Linked DNA regions of Homo sapiens. The protein of the gene in region 1 purifies or fractionates together with the protein of each later gene. This does not show direct contact. Each region holds a gene or a part of one and is shown in the gene's direction. Other genes may lie near its edges.

Evidence for each region.
Region 2: the proteins of LGALS9B (region 1) and LNPEP purify together in Homo sapiens (affinity purification with mass spectrometry; one large-scale study listed by BioGRID and IntAct). This does not show direct contact.

What each region holds. Positions count from the first base shown.
Region 1 is NC_000017.11:20,460,174-20,465,508, reverse strand, and holds part of LGALS9B (galectin-9B), read left to right. Parts: intron 1-5,065; coding exon 5,066-5,157; intron 5,158-5,335.
Region 2 is NC_000005.10:97,033,205-97,037,339, forward strand, and holds part of LNPEP (leucyl-cystinyl aminopeptidase), read left to right. Parts: 3' UTR 1-4,135. UniProt on the Homo sapiens protein: Release of an N-terminal amino acid, cleaves before cysteine, leucine as well as other amino acids. Degrades peptide hormones such as oxytocin, vasopressin and angiotensin III, and plays a role in maintaining homeostasis during pregnancy.

The sequences.
Region 1 (5,335 bases):
CTTTTCTGTGCCTCAGTTTCCTCATCTGTAAAAGTGGCCGGGGTTGCTGTGAGGATAAATGTTCCCGGTCACCCCCAGAGCCCTCATGGACACACATGGATCCAAATGCCACAGCAGCCTTAGCTGGCCAACTTAAAACAACACATTTGTGCTTACAGTGTTGGAGGTCAGAAGGCTAAAATCAAAGTGTCATGAAAGGTGGCCAGCAGGACCGTGGAGCCTCTGAGGCAACAGGGCACTTTGGCTAAGGGCCACGTACTGGCTCCAGCTGGCAGGCAGTCTCGGCCAGCCAGGCTGAGCTCCCTACTCCTGGGGCCAGGCCTTGGTGTCCTCTGGTGATGCTGAGTCCAGAATGAGGCTGCCCACATTCTGGTCCGCAGGGCTCAGCTCTGCTTTGACTTCCAGGTAGGAAGAAGAGGGAAAGTCCCCGGTCTCTGGGCACAACCAGGAACAGAGAGCAAGTTCTGACTCAGCAGAGGGATTGATTTGTTCCATGCAAAGAGCTGCACTGTCAAGGCCGACATGGGCCAGAGGCTCAGCACATGGCATCGCACCCCGTCCTCTCAGAACGCTGCCAGCCAGGGACTCAGCACATGGCATTCCACCCAGTCCTCTCCAGAATGCTGCCAGCCAGGGACTCAGCACACAGCATTGCACCCAGTCCTCTCCAGAACACTGTCGGGTGGTGTTACTGCCCTGCCATTCAGAGGAGGGAAGTGGGGCACAGGCAGGTCAAGTGACTTGGCCAGTGTCAGAATTGCTAGTGTACAGAGCTGGGAGGCGAGCCCAGGCCCATGGGACCACAAATCCAACACAAAAATCCATCCTCCTGCACCCTACGGAGCAAAAGTAGGTCCAGTTGTTTTCCTGGGTTTCCTGGACACACGGATCTAAATTCCACAGCAGCCTTGGCTGGCCAATCTTAAAACAACAAATTTGCTTTCTTAATGATTCTGGAGGGCAGATGTTAAAATCATCGTGTGAGCAAGGTTGTTTCCTTCCGGAGGCTCCAGGGGAGAATCTGTTTCTTTTGCTTTTCCAGCTTCTAGAGGCTGCCTGCCTGCCTTGGCTTATGACCCCTCCTGCCATCTTTAAAACCAGCAGCTTTGTCTGGGTGCAGTGGCTCATGCCTGTAATCCCAGCACTTTGGGAAGCTGAGGCAGGAGGATCTCTTTAGCCCAGGAGTTGGAGACCAGCCTGGGCAACAAACTGAGACTGTGTCTCTACAAAGAATAGACAAAAATTAGCCAGGCATGGTGGTGCATGCCTGTAGTCCCAGCTACCTGGGAGGCTGAGGTGGGAGGATCGCGTGAGCCTGGGGAAGTGGAGGCTGCAGTGAGCTGAGATCATGCCACTGCACTCCAGCCTGGGTGACAGAATGAGATCCTGTCTCAAAAAAAAAAAAAAAAAAAAAACACAACAAACAAACAAACAAAACCCCCAAAACCAGCTTCTTGCTTCTGTTGTCACATCTCTTACCTCTGACTTTGATCCTCCTGCTCCCTTTTATAGGACCTTTGTGATTACATTGGGACCACCTGTATAATCCAAGACAATCTCCCCATGCCAAAATTATGCATTTAATCACATCTGCAAAGTCCCTTCTACAACATATTCACAGTTTCCGGGGATTCGAATGTGGATGTTTCTGGGGGGTCGCCCACTGATAACCAGTATTATAAGTTTCTTGTAAATCCTTCCAGAGATATTTTATCTATAAATAAATAAATGCAAGTCCATAGCCTTCCCCTACCCACTTTTTATGCAAATGGCATTATTCCATATCGGTGCTCAGAGTTTTCCTCTTTTTCTTTTTTCTTTTCCGTCTTCTTTTTCTTTTCTTTTGAAAGCTACACAGAACTTATTCTATTATATGGAAATACCCTAATTTATTTCACCTTTTCCCTGTTGGAAGACTTTTAGGCTCCTTCCAATGCTTTGCTTTATAATCCTTTGTGTTATAATGCTGCAATGAATAACCTTGTTTGTTGGATGATATTCAATTTAAAATCTCATTTTTCAGGACAGGCATAGTGGTTCATGTCTGAAATCCCGGCCCTTTGGGAGGCCAAGACAGAAGGATCACTTGAGCCCAGGTGTTCAAGACCAGCCCTGGCAACATATCGAGACCTGGTCTTTTCAAAAAAATTTGAAAATTAGTGGGGTATGGCTTGGTGGCCTGCACTTATTTGGTCTCAGCTGCTCGGGAGGCTGAGGTGGGAGGATTACTTGAGCACAGGAGGTGGAGGCTGCAGTGATCCATGATCACACTCCTCACTGCACTCCAGCCTGGGCAACAGAGTGAGAACCCATCTCAAAATAAAATAAAATAAAATAAATAATAAAATAATCTTGTTTTTCAGAAATTGGGGGTGCCATTTAAGACATTTTGAAACCTCACAGAACTTTTTTGGGGAACTTGTTGCCTTGGAGATTAGCCTGCCCTGTCCTGCCCCCATGACCTGTACTTGGTCTTTCTCCCTCCTGGCTTCCTTAGTTAAGCCTTGTGTGGACTTGCGAGCCCATGTCCATCACTCTCTGCCTTCAATTCTAGGTGCTGTGGTGTGAATACGCTTGAGTGGAGGCCGCATGCTTCCCAGGAGGGTGTGTATTTTCAGCGTTGTCTCTCATGATAGAATGAAAGGCTCTGGAGGGAATCACAGGCTGCCACAAACAGGCAAGGGGAAAAATCTTCCACAGACGTGTTTCAGGGACAACAGGCTTCCCAATCCTAGCCCATGCTGGCCCATAACTGGATCAGGCTGACTCTCCTTCCCCCACACCGCTGGTGTAGACAGGGACAAGAAAGAGAAGTCAGAGACACAGAGAAGCTGTGATTTGCTTGAGGTCACCAAAGTATTTAATGGCAGAGTTCAGACCTGACCTGAGGGGCAAGAAAAGACAACCCCCTCAAATCCATGGGGAGCAGAGACTATCTGGATCAGATCTCAGATTGCCTGGGGCTTTCACGGTGCCAGGTGTGTACACTGAGCTAGGATGGGTTTCCCAGGGTGCTGTGTGGTCACATAACTCAACAATACAGACCAGAAAGCAGTGACCAGTAGGCTGAATTTGGCTAGTGGGTGTTTTCTGTTTGGCCTACACAGTGTTTACTTTAACTTGTTATTATAGGAAATTCAAACATGCAGAGAGAATTGTACCATCAACAACACACACCCATCACTCTGCTCCAACAATGATCAACTCAGGCCTATCTTGCTTCATCCTGTACCCTCCCTCGCTTGCTTCTCTTCCCACCTTCAGATATGCGGAAGCAAATCCAGAGATTTCATTCCATTGTAAATATTTCATTGTGTATCTCTACAATGTGGGAATTTGGGGAGTTTCATTTGAGACAGGGTCTCGCTTTGTTGCCCAGGCTGGAGTGCAGTGGTGCAATCGTGGCTCACTACAGCCTCGACCTCCCAGGCTCAAGTGATCCTCCCACCTCAGCCTCCCAAGTAACTGGGGTTAAAGGTGTGCACCACCACATCTGGCCAATTTTTTTATTTTTTGTAGAGATGGGGGTCCCACTATGTTGCCCAGGCTGGCCTAAAACTCCTGGGCTCAAGTGATTGTTTTACCTCAGCCTCCCAAAATGCTGGGATTATAGATGTGAGCCACTGTGCCCAGTCAGGAACTTTTACATAATCCTTTTTGACAAAAGATTTCCCCCAAGAAATTAGAAAGTTTTACAAAAAAAAAAAAAAAAAAAAATTCAGGTTTCTGTCTCATCTTAAAAATTTGGAAGTTCTGCCAATACTAAGCCCAGATGGTAATCATTGGTTAGTGCTGAGAAGATGTTGACTTTTTAGATGAGGCGTGTGACGTCTACTTTGCCACAGTCCCCACCACTCCCTACCTGGCCATCTGACTCATACACATCACCTGCCTGGCTTCTTTAGGCATTTAATTTGTGTAGGAAATTGACCTAAAGGAGATATTAGAGAAGACATTAAAAACTTGAAGAATGTGAAAATCAGCCATGAGATAGAACTGTGCTTTAATGCAGGTTATAGAACCACACCGGATATGAGGCATTTCGGAATAAACTTTGAAGATTGGAAGTACCAGTTTGTGAATTTTGCTCAGAGAGACCAAGGTGGGGGTGGGTGACAGTGGTGAAGCGTCTCCTCTGTGCCAGTCTCTTCTACCACAGGCTTTTTCTCACAAAATCATCAATCATATGCAGTAGGAGAAACACCTTCCTATTTTACAGATGAGGAAACTGAGGCAAAGAGAGGTGAAATAGGCTTCCCAAGGCCACTCAGGTCAGGAGCAGCAGAGTTAGGATTCAGACCTGGAGTCCGCCTGACTCCAAAACGATGCATGCCTCACCATGGCCCATAGCTCCTTTAAAGAGGCGCGGAAGAGAGAATTTGACAAAGTGCTTGCCCACGGGGCCTGGGATGGGTGGGGAAACTACGCTGGGGCTCGGGGCTGCGGAGGGCATCTGGGAAGAGGCTCTGCTGAAGGTGGTCAGGAGGGCAAAGGTCATGGTGGCCATTGTTATATGGTGGTGGTGGGGAGAGGTGCATGCCTTCTTCTTGACACTCTCTGGTGACCCTCTCGGTGGAACCTGCAGACCCTTGATGGGTCCCTTTGTTCCCTTGGGCCTCCTGAGTCCCCAGCCAGGGCGCTGGGCACTTTGCTGGGAGCTTGGCATGGGGTCCAGCAGCCCCATTGCTACCTAGTTCCTTACCAGCCCAGGGCGTCTGCCTGCTACTTCCCTGCCTGGAAGGAAGGCCTTCCGCCTGGAGCGTTCCTGGTGTGGCCTCCGCTGCCTCTCAGACTCTCACACAAGCTCAGCTCCCTGTCGCGTCCTCTCAGGGCCAGGATTCTCCTTATCACAAGCTTAGACTGTCTGAGTAACTAATTGGATTTGTGTCTGCCTCCACACAGGACCCTAAGACCCGTGGGGCTGAGACTCCTTCTGTCCTGGTCACAGCTGCACCCTAGCCCCTCGCATGGTGCGGTCACACCCAGGCCAGCCACTGACTAGCCCCGAAGGGGAGCAAACAGGAGGCCGGCCACCTGACTGAGGCCCCATGTCTTCTCCCTGCAGGCCGTCCCCTTTTCTGGGACTATCCAAGGGGGTCTCCAGGACGGATTTCAGATCACTGTCAATGGGGCCGTTCTCAGCTCCAGTGGAACCAGGTGTGTGTATATGGATGGAAACGTTTCACTCCAGCCTCGTCCCTTAGTAAAGCCACTGTGCCTGTGAGCCTCGGTTAGTTCAAACAACAACATCCAAGCTCACGTGCCTGGCGCAGGGGAGACCCAATGCATCCTTAACCCATGCCACAGGACAGCACTCCACAGGCACAACCTGCAC
Region 2 (4,135 bases), on another chromosome or scaffold:
GTATAACAGTCTCCCATTCTCCTCATCCCTTATTGACTGCTGGGCAGTAGCTAACAGAGTAGTTGTCAAGTGGCGTATTTGAGGTGAGGGGGAGGGACGGGGAAGGTAGGAAAATGCACTTAATGTATATACATGTTTTTACTACTACATTGTATTAATTCATCGGGTGCCCAGACTGAAAGGTACCTAATGAACCATGGAGTTCCGGATGTATAACAGTCTCCTCTTTTCCCTTTCCCTTATTGCCCATGTGGGCAATACTTAAGAGTAGTTTGGGTTTATTGAAGATTTTTTGCTAGGAGAGAGAAAATTTTTTGCTAGGAGAGGTTTCAAGGTAAGAGTATATACTTTAAACATGTATATAAATGTTTTTGCTACTTTTCTGTCACTACCTTTCTTACCTTGTCCTTTACATGGATATATGAAGAAAATTGAGGTTCAGCCTGTAGCAGCTCTCCTCTTCTGCCCTTCCCTTAGATTGTCTGTGTGGGCAGGTGTCTAAGAGAGTAGTTGATTAGCTTCAGGGATTCTTTGGTGGGTGTTGGGGTATATACTTTTGTATATGTATGTACATATTTTTATTTCTTTATTATAGTGTTTCATTGGGTACCCGGTCCTTCACTTGGATGTGTAGGTTCCTAATGAGCCATGGAGTTATGGATGTATAACAATCTGTTCTCCCTTTACCCTTTTAATGTATATGGGCAATAATTTTAAAGTAGTTTGGATTTTTTTAAGTTTTGAGGGGTGGGAGGGGTCTAAGGCAGAATATATCCTTTTTAAAAATGTATATATACTTTTCATTAACTATATTGTATTATTTCATGCTGTACCCAGTCCATTGCTTGGACTTACGGGTACCTAATGAAACGTGGAGGTCCGGATGTATGAAAATCTCCTCTTTTCCCCTTTCCTTATTGCCTCTGTAGGCAATAATTATAGAGTAGTATAGATGGTTTTTCTTTTTTATCCATCTGCCTATCTCCAGGAGGATGGGGTGTGCACTTTTAGAAATGTATATAAATGTTCTTGCTCCTTTTTCCTGTTACTTCATTGTGTGCCAAGGCCTTTCCATGGATACTTAGGTACGTAATGAAAATTGAGGTTCATTCTATGAAAAAATCTCCCCTTCTCCCCTTCCCTTATTGCCTGTCTTGGCAATGGCCAGTAGAGTAGTTATTTAAGGGATTTTGTTTTTTTGTTTTTTTGTTTTTTTTTTGGTAGGGGAGGTGGGGAATTTCTGGGTTTGTCTTTTTTTTAATGTATATAAAAGTTTGCTAGTTGTTGTTATTGTTGTTCTTTCACTCTCAACACAGTTTTTTGTTTGGAGTTGTAGGAATCAAATGTAATGAGGGACCCAGACCCGAGAGTGTGGTAAATATTCTTTGCCTTCCTCAGAGCCTGTATACACAAGCAAGTAGTATGTGAGCACTACAGGGCTTGGGTTTTGGTTTTTTGCTTTTGAGGGTTTTAATGAGGAGTGGGATTGTTGAGAGGAAAAGGCAAGATATATAATTTTTTTAATGTATATAAATGTTTTGCTCCTTTTTGATGTTAACTTCATTTTGAATCTGGTCCTTTGTATGACCACTTAGGTACTTAATAGTAATAAAGTTGAGATTGACTCTATGAAAAATATCCCATACTCCCCATCCCTCATTGCCTAGGGGGCAATGGTAGAATAGATGTTTGGTTTCTTTTGGGGGTGTCTGAGTGTATATGTGTGTGTATATACACACAAGAACACACATATTTATATACTATACACACACATTTTAATGTATATAAATATTTGCTACATTCTGTGTGTTATATAATGTGGTACCCAGTCCTCTGCTGGGACATGGATGTACATAATGAAACATGGAGGTCCAGACGTATGATAACTCTCCTGTTTCCCTTCCCTCATTGCCTACAGGGGCAATAGTTTCATATCTTGGGTTTTTTATTGTTTAATTTTTTTTTATGGGGAGGGGTTCTTTGGGTGGGTAATAGTCAGGGGGAAAGGACAGTGTCTATACTTTTTAAAGATGTATATAAATGTTTCATGTTATTGGTTTTGTACCTAGTCCTTTGCATGGATATATAGGTACCTAATGAAAATCGAGGATCAGTGTATGACAAATCTCCCATCCTCCCCTTTCCTTATTGCCTGTGTCGGCAATAGGAAGTAGAATAGTTGTGTGTTGTTTACTTACTTGTCTGTTTTAGAGAGATTTCTATTTTTGGTAGGGGAATATTCTTAATATGTTTTCATATCTTTATTTCATTTTGTAGTCTTTTGCATGGCTATGTAGGGACCTAATGAAAGTCGAGTTTCATAATATGACAGCTCACTTCTTTTCCTACATATTTCCTCACTTAGCAGTAGCTAGTGTAGTTATTTTGTGGTTATTTTATTTCATTCTCTAGGATCTATTCCATTAAGGATGCAAGTGTGTAGATGCATATATATCATTTGCTTCTTTCTTCCGCCATTATTTTCCTTTAACACTTAGTCCCTTGCAAGGGGTCTGACTATACCTAACAAAAATAAAGACCTACTAAATCCCTGCCATCTGGCTGGAAGGTGTAGCAGTGTATTAATGTAACTAATAGCAACAGGTGTGCAGCAGATAAGACAGGAGAAGACACTCAGCTATGGTTGAGTTGTGAAAGCTAATTAGATCCAGCATTTCTTATGTTGATTCAGATTGAATGAGGTAGTGAAAAGGGACCTGTGCTTTTGTAAATTCTAGAAAGGCAAGAGGACAATATTGAATAAAGCTGTGTTTAAACTTCATTGCTCATATATCTTTTAGTAACTGGTAAACCGGCGAAGCTGATAAGCCAATAAGAGTGCTGTCTAGAACGCATTTGCAAACCGTTAAGAGTAGCTTCTTTTTGAGGCCTGGACTTCTGATTCATCTATAGAAGTCTATTATGATTCCATCAATTGCATAGCTTGTGTACCTGGTAGAAATTGTGTCTTGGAATGACCCTTTCGAGTTATTGACATGGCTCTGATGAATAGAACATGAGCCCCAAAACTAAATCCAAAAGGAATTTTCTATCTTTCATCCCCCACATGTGGCAAGACAAGTTGGCCCTTTCTTACCCAGAGGTCTTTTGTGTGACTGCATCTTTCTCCTCCGTTCTCCATTGTGTGCTTTCCATTTTGTCTTTAGTGCCTATACTGTTAGGTGTTTTCTTCACTGGCATTCACAAATTTAAGCCATTGCTGCCTCATTAGCCTTGTATTTTGTGTGCATATCATGTATCCAGACCTGTATGTTCGCTTTAAGCATTCTTATATCACACTGTCTCCTCATCTACCATATGGTAAATGTTAAAACTCCACATTTGTCTGCATCAGGGAAAATGCATGGGCACACATCCTCCCTCCCTCCCTCTCTGCTCTCCTCCCTTCCTTCAGGCCTCTTAGCATTGTTTGTTTTCCCATTTCTGATACTACTACTCCATGCTGAAGATTTGCCATATTACTATTTTGGAAACATTGAGTGATAGAACTCCTAGAAAATTTGCAAAGAAATGTTACATACTGTATATCAAACTCTCAGATTCTAGTGTTGAAAAAGTAGCCTATACTTTGCTATTACTTATACCTGCTGCCATAGAAAAAAATAAGTTTATTCATGACACATTTACATTTGATCATAAATAAAAGAAAAAAGGGCACCTTTTTGGAGTTAGTCATGGTAGTCATTAGTGATATTTCTGAACAGTTCTTAATTTAAAATACTTCAAAGGAAGTAAAGGTCATGGCTTAGCTGAAGGAAATGCTCCAGAAATTGGACTGTGTAAACCATCAGTACAATAATACGCTGTGTATGTATGTGTATATAAAATGAGAATTATGGCATAATTGGAGCATTTGCATTAATCAACAAACTCACATTGAGACAAAACTTAGTTTTACAGCTGTCTTGATTAAAGCCAAGTGTTCCATGTTGCTGTGAAGAATAGCCTCTTTCAAATACTTTGGAAAGTAGTTACTTGGAAACTTGTAAAGGTATTACATTTTTATATTTAAACACCTATAGAGATCTTCAATTCCTTGAGTCTGAGCTTGTGGGTGGAATTCTAAATTTGTATCATAATCTGTCTTTTGTGAAACATTTTGAAAATATGTATA